Linked DNA regions of Homo sapiens: region 2 is linked to region 1. Evidence: fine-mapped expression QTL. Tissue or cell type: monocytes after LPS. Region 1 holds a variant in brackets; the other region holds the start of a gene. All regions are shown on one strand. Distances are from middle to middle. Region 1 overlaps TBC1D2 (TBC1 domain family member 2). Region 2 holds the start of CORO2A (coronin 2A).

Region 1 (8,328 bases):
AGATGCCATATAACAGGCTGCATATGTGATGGTCCCATAAGATTACAATGAAGCAGAAAAATCCCTGTCACATAGTGACATCATAGCCGTCATAACATCATAGCACAACATGCTACCTTTTCTATGTTTACATGTGTTTAGATACACAAATGCCATTATGTGACAGCCACCTATGGTATTCAGTACCGTAACAGGTGCACAGGTCTGCAGCCTCGGAGCAATAGGCTACACCATCTAGCTGGGTGCGTAGTAGGCTAAATCACCTAGGTTTGTCTGCGTCCAGTCTACAATGTTTGCACAACAGTGAAATCACCTAATGACGCATTTCTCAGAGTGTATCCTCATAATTAAGCCACACGAGACTGTACATATAGACTTATAACCTTGAGAACTCTCATGCTACTCTATCAAAGAACTACTCGGTGAGGGCAGATGGAGAAAGAAAAAAAAAGAAATCAGGAAGCTTTTGAGAGAAAAGCTCTCAGTGGGCAGTGTTGAACAGTGGCCACCACCCAAGCTTTGAAGTCAGACTGACCTCTTTGACTCTTGGCTCTGCCTCTTTCTGGCTGTGTGACTTTAGGCATGTTAGCTCACCTCTGTGTCAAATAGCCCAACTAGTCCTCTTGACTAGGGCTGTTAGAAGGATAAAGGAAAAGGACGTGAAACCTGATTCCCTTCCCTTTCTTTCAGCAAAGACTGAAAACCCACATAACCAGTTCCCGAATCTTTTCCCTTATTTAGTCTGAAATCAGAGATTCTTTTGGGTTAAAAGAAAAACATAACCTTTCCAATGCAAATGCAGCCAGATGATTAGAAAGCTCTCAGCCCTCCACACAGCAGGGAAAACTGCTTCCATCTGATTGCTTTTCTACCCTGCCTGCCCCCAGCCAGGCGGCTTCCTCTTCTCTCCACCCATACTGCCGGAATCCACTGTGCAAGCCCCGGTAGAGCAGCACAGGGGTCAGAAAGATTTGTGGTGGCGCACGCCTGTGTTCCCGTCTACTCTGGAGGCCGAGGTGGGAGGATCGCTTGAGCCCACGAGGTGGAGGTTGCAGTGAGCTGAGATTGTGCCACTGCACTCCAACCTGGGTGAAGGAGTGAAACACCATCTCAAAGGAAAAAAAAGAACACTAGATCAGCCAGGTGGCTCCAGACAGCCTGAGAGTTGATTGTAATCATGGACTCACTAGGAGACTGAGTGTGCCCCTGAATTTACATATTCAGGAATTTTATTTTTTTTTATTTTTATTTTTTGAGACGGAGTCTTGCTCTGTCACCCAGCCTGGAGTGCAGTGGCGCGGTCTCGGCTCACTGCAAGCTCCGCCTCCCAGGTTCACGCCATTCTCCTGCCTCAGCCTCCTGAGTAGCTGGGACTACAGGTGCCCGCCACCATGCCCGGCTAATTTTTTTGTATTTTTAGTAGAGACGGGGTTTCACCATGTTAGCCAGGATGGTCTTGATCTCCTGACCGCGTGATCTGCCTGCCTCGGCCTCCCAAAGTGCTGGGATTACAGGTGTGAGCCACCGCACCTGGCCATGAATTTTCTTTATCAGTGAGCTCAGCTACATGGAGACTCTGGGTATGTGATTCACATTAACCAAGAATACACTTGCATATGATCCTCAGAGGCCCAGTGTTTTGTGCTTTGTGCTTTAAAGGGTTGCATAAGGCCAGGCATGGGTGGCTCACACCTGTAATGCCAGCATTTGGGGAGGCTGTGGCAGGAGGATTACTTGAGGCCAGGAGTTAGAGACAAGCCGGGGAAACATAGCAAGATCTCATCTCTACAAAAAATTAAAAAATTAGCCAGGCACAGTAGCACGTGCCTGTAGTCCCAGCTACTTGGGAAGCTGAAGCTAGAGGATTGCTTAAGCCCAGGAGTTCATGACCAGCCTAGGCAACATAGCAAGACCCTGTCTCTAAAAAAAAATAAAATAAATTCACTAGGTATGAAGGCACCCGCCATAGTCCTAGCTACTCAGAAGGCTGAGGTGGGAGATTACTTGAGCCGCCCAGGAGTTCGAGGCTGTGGTGAACTGTGATCACGCCACTGCACTCCAGCCTGGACAACAGAGTAAGACACTGTCTCTATTAAAAAAAAAATAAAAAAGAGAAAGAGTTGCATGTAGTTGGTGTTCCTTAGTTTTTAGCTTTTAGAATACCCATCAAATATCCATTGTCTTGAGTTTGAGGACAGAGAATGTTGAGGTTTCCTGCCTGCCCTGTGATTGAGGAACCCAACTTTAGGGAATGCCCCTTGTTATTCAGACTTTGGTTTTGAGAACAGGATCACTGACCTCTTGAATATCAGATCTGGAAAGACTCAGAAATCTAGTCTGCCCCACTCATTTTCTGGCAGGGACAGCTGAGCTGGGGCAAGGGAGAAGGACTGGCCCAGGGTCAGGCAGCAAGAGGCAGGGCTACAGCCGGAACCTGGCCTCCCATGCCCAGGCCACTGCCTTCCACACAGCACAGGGCCTAGTCCATGGGCATGGCCCAAAGAGAATTCCCGGGCTCCTGCTTCCCTGGTCCCCCTTCTCCAGGGTTTTCCTTCTTTCATTCCACTGGTGACTGTCCTGTGGCTTTTCTCTTTTCTGAGGTTTCTCTTTTTCCTCCCTACAGTTCTGAGCCAAGACGAGCACTCAAGGTAGGGCATCGAGCTGGAGGGGGAGGTACTGCCCGACGCCACCCACTGCCACTGCTGTTCCAGGCTGTGCTCACTCTGCCTCCCTGTCCGGCATGTCTGTGCCTTCCCTAGAGCTGGAAGCAGGGTATCTTATGTGACAAAAGCCTTCTTTCCAAAGCCTTAGAAATAACAGTGTGTAGCCAAGCGTGGTGGCTCACAATCCAGTGCTTTGAGAGGCCACGGTTGGAGGATTGCATGAGGCCAGGAGTTTGAGACCAGCCTAGGCAACATAATGAGACCTTTTTAAAAAATTAAAAATTAATTAGCTGGGTGTAGTGGCACACACTTGTAGTCCCAACTACTCAGGGGCCTGAGACAGGAGGATCACTTGAGCCCAGGAGGTCAAGAGTGCAGTGAGCTATGATCATGCCATTGCATTCCAGCCTGGGTGACAAAGTGAGACCCTTTCTCTAAAAATAAAAAAAGAAAGAAAAATAAATAAATATCCATGAGCACATCTAGGCCTGGGAGGAGGAAGGGGTGATATCAAGGAGGGAGACCCAGTGGTGTGGAGCAGTGGCCAGCGCCAGAGCTGGGTCTGCTTTCTCTACGCAGTGTCTGCTGAGCACCTGCCATGGGCTGAACACACCTGGGTTTGGATCCTGGCTCTCTTTCGTGACAAGGGGAACTTACTTTCTCTGTGTGTGTTTCCTCATCTGTTAAATGGGAATTAGGGCACTTTAATAGTTATCCCACAGCCTTGTGGATATGAGGGAGATGGGTCAGGTCATGGTAGGTCCTTTCCTCCCTTG[C/A]GGGGGGGCTTGTTGTATTTTCCCGGGCATTGGATTCCGAACTCTGTGAGCCGACTGAGGGGGTGGGTGCAGGGTGGGGAATAGTAGCTCTCGAGCTGTCATGCAAACTCAGTGAGGGAGACGATGCTCACGCTCACGTTGCACTTGCCACATGCCAGGCACCGTTCTGAGCCTTTTGCACATATTAACTCACTGAATCCTCTCCCAGCCACATGAGGTAGTACTGTTATTATCCTCATTTTCCAGATGAGAGGATGAGGTTAAGTAACTTGTCCAGGGGCTCAGTGGTCAAGACAGAATTTCCACCCAGACAGCGTGCCCGCAGCATTCATGCCACTGACCACCAGGCGGTGCCGGTACATGGCCAACTCCAGCGTCTTTGATGTGTTGTTATACTGTCTGATGGGTAGGAGAGGTCACATAAGCCTGCATGCGTGTAGCCAGGAGACACCAAAGGACAACGCTTGGAGGGTAGGGACTAGAGTGTGGGCATCCAGGTGGATTCCAGCTGGTGGGGAGCTCAGATGGTGCCCGGCAGGAAGTTTGGTGATTAGGGCTTTAGAATGAGACAGTCCTGGCCAGGCACAGTGGCTCATGCCTGTAATCCTAACACTTTAGGAGGCCGAGGTGGAAGGATTGCTTGAGGCCAGGAGTTTGAAAACAGCCTGGGAAACATAGTGAGACCTCGTCTCTACAAAATCAAAAAATTAGCTAGGCATGGTGGTGCCTGCCTATAGTCCCAGCTACTTGACAGGCTGAGGTGGGAGGATTGCTTGAGTCCAGGAGGTCGAGGCTGCCATGAGCTATGATCACGCCACTGTACTCCAGCTTGGGCGACAGAGCAAGACAAACAAACAAAAAGAATCAGACAGACCTGGGTTTGGTCACATCTGCCTTATACTGGCTGTGCCTTAGGCAAGTTGCCTACCCTTTCAGAGCCTCTGAGGCCTCATCTGTGTCATAGGAATAATAAAAGAACATCCCTTCTAGGGTTGCTAGGAGGATGAAGTGAGAGAATATATGCTGCGTGGTGTTGGTGATGGGGGTGATGCCGGAAGCCTGCACAGCCTCTGTATTCATAAGTTTCTATATCTCCAGACAGTAAAGTGTTAGACTCCAGAGAGAGTGGGGAGTGGTCCAGGAAAGGCCTGATGCTCATGGGAGACTGGTCCCTGTGCCACAAACAAGATTTTCACTTCTTGCCACATAAGGATAGGATATGGGGACTGTGGAGAAGAAGCAGGCAGAAACTTGCCAGCAGAGCGGCTGGCGCACACAGCAGCATTTTTGAGAGGCAGTGAAGCTGGTTTTTTATCTAGGTCAGGGACAGGATTGGATAGGGGGAGGAGGGTGGCGCCAGGGGTTGGAACTGCCTGGGTCCAGCCAGAAGGCAGAGAGCAAGCTGAGTGGATGCACAGCCTTTCAGCCTTGGCACAGCGAGGGAGATGAAAGCAGGGGTGGCCTGGGTTGGGGCACCACAGAGAGCCCCCGTGGAGTGGTGAGGGGTGATGTGATAAAGTCAACAGGGGGCATTCGTTCCCTCCCCTGGGAGCAGAGGCCCTTCTAGTGTGTCAGGCTCTGGGCGGAGGGCAGCAGCCCCTGGGCAGGCATCGGAGCTTCCAGCCTGGGGAGACCTTGGAGATCATCTTGGCCAGAGTGAAGACCCACCCAGGGAGGGCCAGGACCACCTGTGGGCTGTGCACATGTGACCCTGACGAGGATGTGCCCCAAACTACATGTGATGTTCTTCATTTCCAAATCAATCTGGCCACGTCGGAGTCATCCTTGCTGCAGCATCGCTTGCACATGTGATGTTCTTCATTTCCAAATCAACCTGGCCACGTCGGAGTCATCCTTGCTGCAGCATCGCTTGCACATGTGATGTTCTTCATTTCCAAATCAACCTGGCCACGTCGGAGTCATCCTTGCTGCAGCATCGCTTGCACATGTGATGTTCTTCATTTCCAAATCAACCTGGCCACGTCGGAGTCATCCTTGCTGCAGCATCGCTTGCACATGTGATGTTCTTCATTTCCAAATCAACCTGGCCACGTCGGAGTCATCCTTGCTGCAGCATCGCTTGCACATGTGATGTTCTTCATTTCCAAATCAATCTGGCCACGTCGGAGTCATCCTTGCTGCAGCATCGCTTGCACATGTGATGTTCTTCATTTCCAAATCAACCTGGCCATGTCGGAGTCATCCTTGCTGCAGCATCGCTTGCACTCACCTCCAGCCCATACATCAATGGGAGAGAAAGGGCCTGAGTTTCAGCCAGTAAATACCCTGGAATTGTGAGGTATAGCTCTAAGAATGTGTTACGTGACTGAACGGCTTCTGTAATGTCCATCCCAGCAGAATTGAGAGCCACTGCTATAGCTGATCCTTCTCTGAGGCTCAGGTCCTTGCTTGAACCTTCCCAGTGCTTGTCTGGCTTCTCCTTGTATGCCCCAGCAGCAGGGAGCTCATTCCCTCCACTGGATGGGCAACTTGCAAAAGGAAAACTCAGAGATGTTTATCACAGCATTATTCATAATCAAAAACCAACTGCAAACACCCCAGGTTCAAATTAAAAAATGACAGGAAAAGGATTATGAGTAAGTTCTGGTAAATTCACCCAATAGAATCATCACCAGAGGTTAAAAATGATCACTGGGAAGCTTATGTAGCAACATTGAAAGGTTTTACAAAGTGACACTGAGTTAATTTTACAGTATGATTGTAAATATATGATAAAATATGTTGATTTTAAAAACAAACACTACTTGAGCACTTGCTATGTTTTGGTCCCTGTACTTAGTGTTGTCACACATTATCTCACTTAGTTTCCCAACTGCCCAGTAGGTTAGTTGGTATTTGCCCCTTTTACAGATGAGGAAACAGAGGGTCAGAGTGGTTCAGTGGCCTGCCTGAGGCCTTCCAGCCAGAACATCAGCCAGGACTTAAATTCAGACCTACTGGTCCCTTTACCACATCATGCTGACATCAAGAATAGAGAAGGGTGCTATGAGTATTTTATTTTTCTTTCAGACTTCCTCTTCTGTTGCCATTATTGGAAATTTCTAAGGAAAAGAAGCTTTGGGGGCTCATTTGAGGGTGTGACTCCCCAGGACCAGGGAGATGTTTATGTCCAACTGATAACATATTTTACTCTCTTCTCCAGGATGACATGGAAGCTTACCGGACCCAGAACTGCTTCCTCAACTCCGAGATCCACCAGGTCACAAAGATCTGGAGAAAGGTGGCTGAGAAGGAGAAGGCCCTTCTGACGAAGGTGCGGGGTGGGGCCCTATTCCAGCCGTCTCCATCCCTGGCCCCTCTGCTGGTCCCCATGCTGCCCACTCCGTCTCACTCTCCTCATTTCCTGTCTGCCCCTCTCCCTCTGAACTGACCCCTTGTGAGCAGGGCCCATATCAGGTTCTTCTCCAGACCCCTGTGGTCGGGGGATTGAGTCATTTGTTCCGCAGCGTTCACTGAGTAGCTGTGGGGTAGGGACATCAAGACCAATAAGGCTGGTTCCTGCCTACAAGGAGGGTATAGACTAGTGAGGGAGTGTAACCCAATCAAGATGTACTTGGGGCCAGGCGTGGTGGCTCACACCTGTAATCCCAGCACTTTAGGAGGCCGAGGCGGGTGGATCACAAGGTCAGGAGATTGAGACCATCCTGGCCAACACGGTGAAACCCCATCTCTACTAAATATACAAAAAAAAATTAGCCGGGCATGGTGGCGGGCGCCTGCAGTCCCGGCCACCCGGGAGGCTGAGGCAGGAGAATGGCGTGAACCTGGGAGGCGGAGCTTGCAGTGAGCCGAGATTGCGCCACTGCACTCCAGCCTGGGCAACAGAGCAAGACTCTGTCTCAAAAAAAAAAAAAGATGCACTTGGACTTGTGGGATTCTTGGGGGCCCAAAGGGAGGAAGGAAAGTCAGGGAGGGCTTCCTGGAGGAGGTACCTTCTGAATTGAGTCCTAAGGATGAGTTAATGTTATCCAGGCAAGCAGTGGAGAAGGACCTTCCAGGAAAAGAGACAGCATAGTAAAGACGTGTGGTCTGAGAGGTGGGGGGCAGGGCTAGGGAGAGTGAGACATGAGGCTGGAGTTGAGGAGTTTGGAATTTACTCCAAGGAAACTGGGGAGCTGAAGGATTCTGAGTGGAGAAGTCCTCAATCAGACTTCTGTTCCTGTTCCAAGAAGACTGCTGTGACTGCTCAGGAGGGTGGGCTTGAGAAGGTGGGCCTGGAAGTAGGGAGATTGTTTGGAATCAGCAGCAGAAATCCCTGAGAAGGGGCCAGGTGCGGTGGCACAGGCCTGTAATCCCAGCGCTTTGGGAGGCCGAGGCAGGTGGATCCCTTGGGGCTAGAGTTCAAGACCAGCCTGGGCAACATGGTGAAGCCCCGCCTCTACCAAAAATACAAAAATTAGCTGGGCGTGGTGGTGCACACCTGTAATCCCAGCTACTCAGGAGGCTGAGGCACGAGAATCATTTGAACCCCGGAGGTAGAGGTTGCAGTGAGCCAAGATCATGCCACTGCACTCCAGCTTGGATGACAGAGCGAGACTCTCTCAGGAAAAAAAAAAAAAAGGAATCCCTGAAACAGGTGTTAACGATGGGACTCAGGAAGCAGCCCAGGCAACAGAGGTGGGCACCAGGTGGGATAGGTAGAAGAACAGGCACAGAGGATGGCTTGGAGCTGGTGCCCGGCAAGTGTTTGGAGATGGCGACCGGGCAAGGGTGCAACAGAATTGTTCCCCTGCTGCCACCCCAGGATGAGATAGGATTCGGGGTGGCCCAGAGATCATGGCAGTGCTATGAGTGGATTTTCACTGTCCCCATCTCACAAAAATGGAAAACAAGGAACTTGCCTGACTTGCCTAGCACCACCCAGCTTG
Region 2 (8,328 bases), 24 kb after region 1:
AAAGCCAGGGAGGACTCCCCCAGCTTAACCCACCTGTGGAACCTAGAACACCTTCCCCAAGGACCTAGGGAAGGGGCATGCCTGGCCTGTGGCCTCCTGGGGATACCCTCAGAAGATAGTTCTAAGCCAAGGAAAACTAGAGGAAGAATTTCCTCATGGTTGCCTCACGCTGGGATTGTAGCACTATTTCTCCCCTTCATCAGAGACAACAAGAGAAGCATGATACCCACATGGCAAGGAGGCTGAGCAGGGACTGGTGGGCCCACCCCAGAGCATCTGTGCCTGCTGTTGCTGCCCCTGGGGCGCCTGCTTGCCCTTCCCTGCTCTTTCTGGAGGGTGTTTGGGGCCCACTCCTGGTGTCAGGTTCCTGGCCCGCACCACAGCTGTTGCCCCCTTCCCCTGGGGCTGCTGCCTTCCAGGGCTGGAGGATCCGATCCCTCTCAGCCCCACCTTCCCACCCTAGGGGACAGGACCTCATGCTCAAAGCATGCCTTCCCCAGGCCTTAGGCCCCCAGCAAGCTGTGGTCCGACCTGCTCTAAAGGAGAGGAAAAGGGAATTACCCAGGGAACCTCCCTGGGGCAACATCCCTAAGAATAAAGGGACTGGGTCAAAGGAGGTGGAAGGCCCCCCTCCCAACAACCCCTAACATAAGAGGTGCTCACTCACTTCCAGAGATTGCCCGTGTTCAAGGCTACTATCCTCCAAACACAGACCCCTCCCCAACCCCCAGGCACTGTCTCCTCATTCTTTCTCAACCCCCTCCCCCATGGACATGGGGCCATATCGTACAGAAAGTTCCATGTGGGGCAGATAGATGGAGAACTTGCCCCCCACCCCCACCACACACACACATATGTTCTGGTCCTGCACAAGATGTTTACCCACATATGGAAGATTAACAAAGCCAGCCATGTGGGTGCACTGGGAAGGAAGAGGGAGGTTTCCTGGCCCATCCCAATCCACACTAAGGCCTAATAGAAGATGCCAGGAGATGGGCCCAACTTTGGAACCAGATCTGCTATGTGGTTTTCTAGCTAGGGGATCCTGCGTAGGTCATGCCCACTGTGGCCTCAGTTTCCCCATGTGTGCAATCCTGCATCTGGACCAGGATTAGAGGGAGGGAAGGGGCAAGAGAGGAGGACACTCCCCAGCCACAGCAACCCCAGGAAGGGTCCCAGGTTCATTGCAGAGGTCTCCCTCTGGCTTATGGGTCCATATGCCCACAGCCCCCAGAGATGTCTCTGTCAAACCAGCTGTTCCCCAAACAGTCCCAGCCACCAACCACCATGGCACAGGGTAGGAAGATGCAGGTGCAAGCCTTGGAGGGCACATCCATAGGACATCTAGGAAGGCTAGGCCTGGAAGGATGAGTGGGTTTAGACAAGGGAGATGATGATTTGGGAAGAGAACTGCAGACAGAGCAAAGGCTCAGAGATGTCAGAGTGCAAGGCGAGTGGCATTGGCAGAGGTAGAAAGCCACACCAGAGATGCTGGCCCAAGCCCTAAGTGAATTAAGACATTCAAGGCCAGGCGTGGTGGCACGCACCTGTAATCCCAGCACTTTGGGAGGCCAAGGCAGGCAGATTGCTTGAGCCCAGGAGTTGGAGACCAGCCTGAGCAACGTGGCGAAACCCTATCTCTACAAAAAATATAAAAATTGGCTGGGCATGGTGGCACGCACCTGTAGTTCTAGCCATTCGGGAGGCTGAGGTGGGAGGATTGCTTGAGCTTGTGTGGTGGAGGCTGCAGCAAGCTAGGATTGTGCCACTGCACTCCAGCCTGGGCGACAGAACAAAACCATGCAAAAACAACAACAACAAAGTTATTCAGATGCCTTAGCCTGGGAAAGATCATGGTGCCCACCGTCCAGCTGTAATTCAAGTAAAAACCAAACCATGATTATAAAGAATTCCCACAATGTTCTGATTTCATCCATATGTTTGTTTGTTTGTTTGTTTGTTTGAGACAGAGTCCCACTCTGTAGCCCAGGCTGGAGTGCAGTGATGTGATCTCGGCTCACTGCCACCTCCACCTCCTAGGTTCAAGTGATTATCCTGCCTCAGCTTCCCAAGTAGCTGGAACTATAGGCACATGCCACCACGCCCGGCTAATTTTTGTATTTTTAGTAGAGACAGGTTTTCACCATGTTGGCCAGGCTGGTCTTGAACTCTTGAGCTCAAGCAATCCACCTGCCTTGGCCTCCCAAAGTGCTGGGATTACAAGCATGAGCCACTGCGCCCAGCCATCCATATGCTTGATACCCAACTCTTGCACGCTAACACCAGAAGCATGCGTTCAGTCTACCTGCTGGGCAATCCAGCTCCAGAAGGTCTGAATCAGAGCTGTAGGATGGGGTTTTCAGGACCATAGTGCACACTGGGCTTTGGGTGGTAGGCAGGGAGCCCGTCCAGCTCTGGGCAGGGGGGTGGTACAGTGGACTATGGAAGCTGAGTCACATTCTAAGGAGAGAATCAAGAGCTCCCTAAGTACCTTGCCACTCCAAGCCTCAGTTTTCTTATCTGTAAAATGGAGGTAATAATAGTGGCTAAATAAAGCCACTATTATTAGAAGCTTAGAAGAAACGATACAGATATGTAAAGTAGTAACAGTGTACTCTGTTATCCACTCCACAACTATATATTGAGTGGTTACTATGTGCCACGGAGCAGTTCAAGGCCCTCAAGATAACCCGTCTCTACTGAACAAAACCAAGAGCTCTTCACAGACGTGGTGTGGAGTGGAGTGGCTGTTAGCTTAGTAGCCGTGGGAGCCATACTGCCTGGGGTTGCATGACTAGCCGGGTGATCTTAACCTAGGTACTTAATATCTCTGTGCCTCAGCTCTTTTGTGTTAAATAGGTGAGTAATGGTATCAACCTCATAGGCCTGTGTGACAGTGAAGCGAGGTAATGCACAGAAGGCGCTTAGAGGAGTGCGTGGCTCAGTAGTGTTAGGTGGGGGTGGTACCCAAAGGTAGGGCCTCCCCATTGTCTAGTGTCCTCAGGGCTCTCCAGCCAGCGAGGCTGGCAGCAGCGCCCCCGGCTGGTCCCGAGAGAAGGAAGGGCGTCCTCCTCGGTTCCCAGCGGCGCTCCCGGCTCCTCTCCTCCCTGCGGACGGGGAAGCCTCGGTAACCGCTGTAACTGCTCGGGGAAAGGAGCGCTTCCCTGGCCGGGCTCGGCGCGCGCACTGTACCCGGCCGGGATCGTCACATCCAGGGCTCAAACAGCCTTAAGAGGCCGACGCGGTTACTGTCTCCATTTCACAACGGGGGAAACTGAGGCTCCGGGAGGTCAGGTTCCTCATCCCACACCACGCAGCGAGGGCACGGCGCGACGTGGGGCCCGCGGCTCTGCCTGTCCCCAGCCTCCGCCTGGTGGCCGGCAGCCCGCCCCAATCACTGCGGCGTGTGCGCGCCTGTTCCCAGCACGTGTGCGCGCCCCGAGACCCGCCCCGGGGAGCCAGGAGCGCGGTCGGGGTCGTGGGGGCGGAAAAGGGTGGCCAGGGCGGACCCGCGGGGCGGGCAAAAGGGCGGACCTTGGGCCAGGCCCCCGCCCCGCCCTCCGGCCCCGCCCGCCGGGCTGCAGGGGGAGGCGGCGGCGGCTCTGGGCGCCGGGAGTCGGCGGGCGGCGAGGAGCGCGGAGCCGGAGCTGGACGCCGCCGCCGCCACCGCCACCTGCGCGGCAGTCATCAAGGTAGGGCGGCCCTGCGCCGCCGGCCGTGCCTTCCCGGTCTGCGCGATGGGGGCGTCGGGCGGGACGTGCGCGCTGCGGCTGCAGCTCCCGGAGAGGGAGGGATGCGGGGCTCGGAGCGCGGGGGACCTGGCTTTCAGCCCCTTTGCGTGACCTTGCACAAAGCACTGCTCCTCTCCAGGCCTCAGTTTCCCCGTCAGGATAGCTTGCTCATTGGTGGCCCCCTTCTCGCGGGGTTGTTGGGAGGGGCCGCCTCGAGGTCCGGGCTCCCGACGGCTCGCTGCCCTCATGAGCACTGTCTGCACCGCCCACCCCTCCTGCCCGCGGTGAGGGAAGCTCACTCTGGGCGCGGCCAGCCGGTCCCGACAGGCCCCTGCTGTGGCCCGGGTGCTCCATGGGACTCTTGTCGGGACCCTCCCCCTCTTGGCTGCGTTACCTGCTGGGCCTCAGCTTCCTGGTACAGGAAACGGTGGGGTGGGGGGCATCCCCGGGTCCCCGCCAAGCCGGCCTGGGCGTGCATGTGGGGCATCAGCCGGCCCGCCAAGAGGGTTTACTCGTCTGGGGCTGGAGGAGCCCTAGGTTGGAGGTGGCTGGACTCCTGGCGGCACGACTGCCTGGACCAGCCCCACGTAGGCACCTCGATTTAGAGAGTGGTATAGGATAGCTCCTTCCCCTTCCCCACCCGGGCCAGGTGCTGGTGCCTAGCTCTGTGTCCCAGAGCTAGTGTGTGATAAGGTGTGACACACACTAGCTGGTGTGACAAGGGGTGACTGGCGGCCACGCCTGGACCTCAGAGGGGTGACAGTGCCAAGGTGCTGTGTCCGCGTGGCATTAAGGGATGGGGCAGAGCACAGGTCTGAGGGACTGTGGTCCCAGGCTCCCTAGGTAAAGAAGACCTATGGCATCTGGCCCAGCCCCTCTGTAAGATCCCCTCTGGAAGGTCTTGCTGCCCCCTTGCACACTCCTTGTGATAGGAATCTCACTAGTTGTAAACCAAGCTGGAATCTGCTACCCAGTCACTGCCTCTCCTGCTGGTCCTGCTCTGGACACACAAACAACCTCTGACCCTTCCTCCCTCACCCTGGGGCAGTGGTCAGGTCCCTTAAATATGCTCATCTCCAGACCCAGCAGCCCCAGGCCCAGCAGTTTCTCCCATCAGATCCCAGGGAGCCAAGGCAAGAAGAGGGAGCCGAGGTGTCTGCCCTGGAGCAGGCTGTGGGGCCTCCGCTTTCCTGGGGCTTGTTCAGAACCCACCTGTGCATCAGGACTGGAATGTGTCTCCCCAGCTTCCTGCCCCTCCTGGGGACCGTCTGAGAGGTCCGGAGTGAGGAGAGCCGGAGCCCCTCTGCAGGCCTTTCCTGCCCCATGGGGCCTCTTCTCCACCTCCCTGATGCCTGCCCTGTTTGAGGGAGCAGTTTCTAGGAATCACTTCTCAGCCTCCTGGTCTTTCTTGTCCCCTTCATGACCTGCCCTGCACCCAGGGATTTTCTTAACAGCCAAAAGAGGGCAGGAGGCCCCTGGACAGGTAGTGAGCTCTTTGTCATCACAGGTATTCAAGCAGAACCTGGGGGTGAGCTACCTTGGACTGAAAGTCTATGGAATTCTAGGGCTGAAGTAGTGCCTATGACCTTGCCCTGCGGCCATGGTGGAGCTGCACAGGACTGGGAGCTGGACCACAAATGAGTGTTATTATCCCCTCGTAAAAGCAGGCAAAGTATATGTGCTGGCCCATGAGCCCAGCTCCGACGCACAGGCTTAAGTGCTACCTGGGTCTCCTGTCATCTCGACACATGTATAATCTGGGCCCTGTTTTCCTGCTTGCCTAATTCAAGCCTTTTTGGCCTGATTTAGGAGCATGGCAGATTCTGGTTATTAAAAAGTCATGCTATGACTTTAATTGCTAATACTTTTTAAATGCACCATGGAATCATGGAATGTCTGAGCTGAAAGGAGCCTTCAGACGTCGTCTCATTCAACCCCCTCATTTTACAGATAGGCATCCCCTGTCGCCAGAGGGGATGTGACTGGGCAAAGGTCACACAGCAAACCAGCAACCGAGCCCAGGGATCCTGATTCCAAGATTGGAGTGCCTTTTTTTCTCCAAAAAAACACATAACATATAATAAATGAAAGCAGTCTGTATTTATTCCTGTAAAATTAGCAAAAATAAAAATAAAAAGATGAAACTCTGTGCTGGCAAGGCTATAGGGATTCGCCTGTGGCATTTAATTTTGCAGAGCAACCTGGCAGCCTGTTATCATGAAAATGATCATATTTGCCCTTTGCCCTTAGCCGGCTACTTTGGGGACTTTATCCTAAGGAAGTAACTAGGGAGAGAGACATATGTAGTGCTGTTATTTGTAAGAAGTTGTCTTCTGGCCAGGCACAGTGGCTCATGCCTGTAATCCTAGCACTTTAGGAGGCCAAGGTGGGCGGATCACCTGAGGTCTAGAGTTTGAGACCAGCCTGGGCAACATGATGAAATCCTGTCTGTACTAAAAATATAAAAATTAGCTGGGTGTGGTGGCACATGCCTGTAATCCCAGCTACTCGGGAGGCTGAGGCAGGAGAATCACTTGAACCCGGGAGGCAGAGGTGGCAGTGAGCCGAGATTGTGCCACTGCACTCCAGCCTGGGCGACAGAGCGAGACTCCATCTCAAAAAAAAAAAAAAATAAAGGAGTTGCCGTCTAGTGAAGAAGTGTTCAGTTTTATCTGAGGCTTAATAAACATTTCATTTGACAAATACAGCTTAAAAAATAGTGGCACTGAAGCTTACATTACCGGAGTCTGGCCAGCATAGAAACAGTTTAATCCAGAAGAAAGACCATGAGACTAAAGTCAGCAGACATAGATTCCAGATTGAAGTCTTCCTCTTCCCTACTGTGTGACCTTGGGCCGATCCGTTCCCCTCTCTGGACCTCACTTTCTCCATCTGTGAAATGGGGGTAGACTCAGCAGTTGCTGAATTTGTTTGAGCTCTGACAGCCAACCTCTTAGAGTGAACAAATCTCAGTAGCAAAGCCGAGATTGGAAGGAGATTCATTAAATGAATCCCCTTAGAGGCAGGTAGCTAGCTCCCCACCGAGGGGTTTCAGCCTTAAACCTTTGCTATTTCAAAATGGCCAGAAGCTGGATCGTTTTAGAAGTTGGTGTGTTTTTATCTTCTCTGCCAAATCTCAGGAGGTCCAGAAAATAATTCAGCAGAATCTTCTTGTGTTTTAAGTCTATAATCCATGCCTTGCCTCCTTCAGAACAGATTGGACGTGCTTTGCAATCACACCTGGTCTAAAGGGCCAGGAGTAGGTGACTTTGCTTCTGTGGTCAAACTGTGCCTCCTGGGGGTCTGCAGGCTGCTATGGGAAACTTACTAGGTTAAACCACATGAAACGGCCAGTATGTGACTTTTTTTGACTTACAAGAAATGGCAATTTCATTTGGTTCAGCCTAAATGGAAAAAGATATACAGGTATTTAAAGAGCGGTGTGCTCCTTACTATAATTGAGAGATTGGCAGGGTGTGGTGGGGACAAGGAAGGTGTGATTATGAGCTTGCAGAAGTCAAGGAGGAGGGACATGGGAGCCTCACTTTGAAGAATCACTAACAGTAATAATAATAGCTAACATTCATTGAGGGTTTACCGCCTGCCTAATTCTGTCCTAAGTGCTTTATGTTCATTCATTCCATTAGTCATTCAGCCAGTATTTATTAAGCACCTACATTGTACTAGTTTTTTTGTTTGTTTCTTTTGTTTTGTTTTTGTTGTTGTTTTTTGTTGTTGTTGTTGTTTTCTGAGACAGAGTCTCGCTCTGTCTCCCAGGCTGAAGTGCAGTGGCATGATCCCGGCTCACGGCAACCTCCGCCTCTGCCTCCTGGGTTCAAGTGATTCTCATGCCTCAGCCTCCTGAGTAGCTGGGATTACAGGTGCGTGCCACCACACCAGCTAGTTTTTGTATTTTCAGTAGAGACGGTGTTTCGCCATGTTGGCCAGGCTGGACTCGAACTCCTGACCTCAAATGATCCGCTTGTCTCGGCCTCCCAAAGTGCTGGGATTACAGATGTGAGCCAACACACCTGACCTGTACTAGGTATTTTCTAAGTGCTGGGGAAAGGGGGAAGGCGCTGATATTAAACAAAATAGACCAGAAAGATCTTCCCCCAAAGAGCTTACAATCAGATGGGGGGAAGACAGATGAAAAACAATAAATAAAATAGATGAATAGGTGATAAATAAAATCAGTGATAAATGAGGTGGAGCAAATAGAACATAGGAGGGGTTAGGGTGTGTGAGGGGGCAGTTTTAACTAGGGTGGGCTGGGGGCCTCATTGAGAAGGTGATTTTTAGGCAAAGGCTTGAAGGAGAGGGGTGAGTCAGGCTCATTTCTGGGGAAACAGCCATTCAGGTGGAGGGAACAGCTGGGGCAAAAGCCCTGAGGCAGGACCATGCCTGGCATGTTCAGAGAAGCACGAGCTGGGACAGAGTGATGGCGGGAGAAGAGGAAGAGAGGAGCAGGCAGGCCCTGGGCTAGACTGTGTACCCCACCATGCTCATAATGGAATCCTGCGAGTGTATGACGGAGCTACTCTTTTTATCCCGCTTTTCCAATTAAGAAAACAAAAATACAGAAAAGTTACATGGC

The links. PIP is the estimated chance that this variant, and not a neighbour inherited with it, causes the effect.
Region 2: CORO2A starts here. The variant in region 1 is fine-mapped to the expression of CORO2A in monocytes after LPS (Quach 2016, PIP 0.95). The same link has a PIP of 0.9 or more in monocytes.

What each region holds. Positions count from the first base shown.
Region 1 is chr9:98,211,493-98,219,820 of GRCh38, reverse strand. TBC1D2 (TBC1 domain family member 2) reads left to right here. Exons shown (of 13, transcript NM_001267571.2): 7 at 6,603-6,713. Among named protein-coding and RNA genes, the nearest start is that of MIR6854, 14 kb to the left of the region's middle. RefSeq lists a silencer at 760-1,054. The variant C/A (reference allele first, on the strand shown) is at 3,440.
Region 2 is chr9:98,187,923-98,196,250 of GRCh38, reverse strand. CORO2A (coronin 2A) reads left to right here and starts at 3,614. Exons shown (of 12, transcript NM_052820.4): 1 at 3,614-3,692. RefSeq lists enhancers at 354-870, 4,107-4,761 and silencers at 3,285-3,834, 3,905-3,954.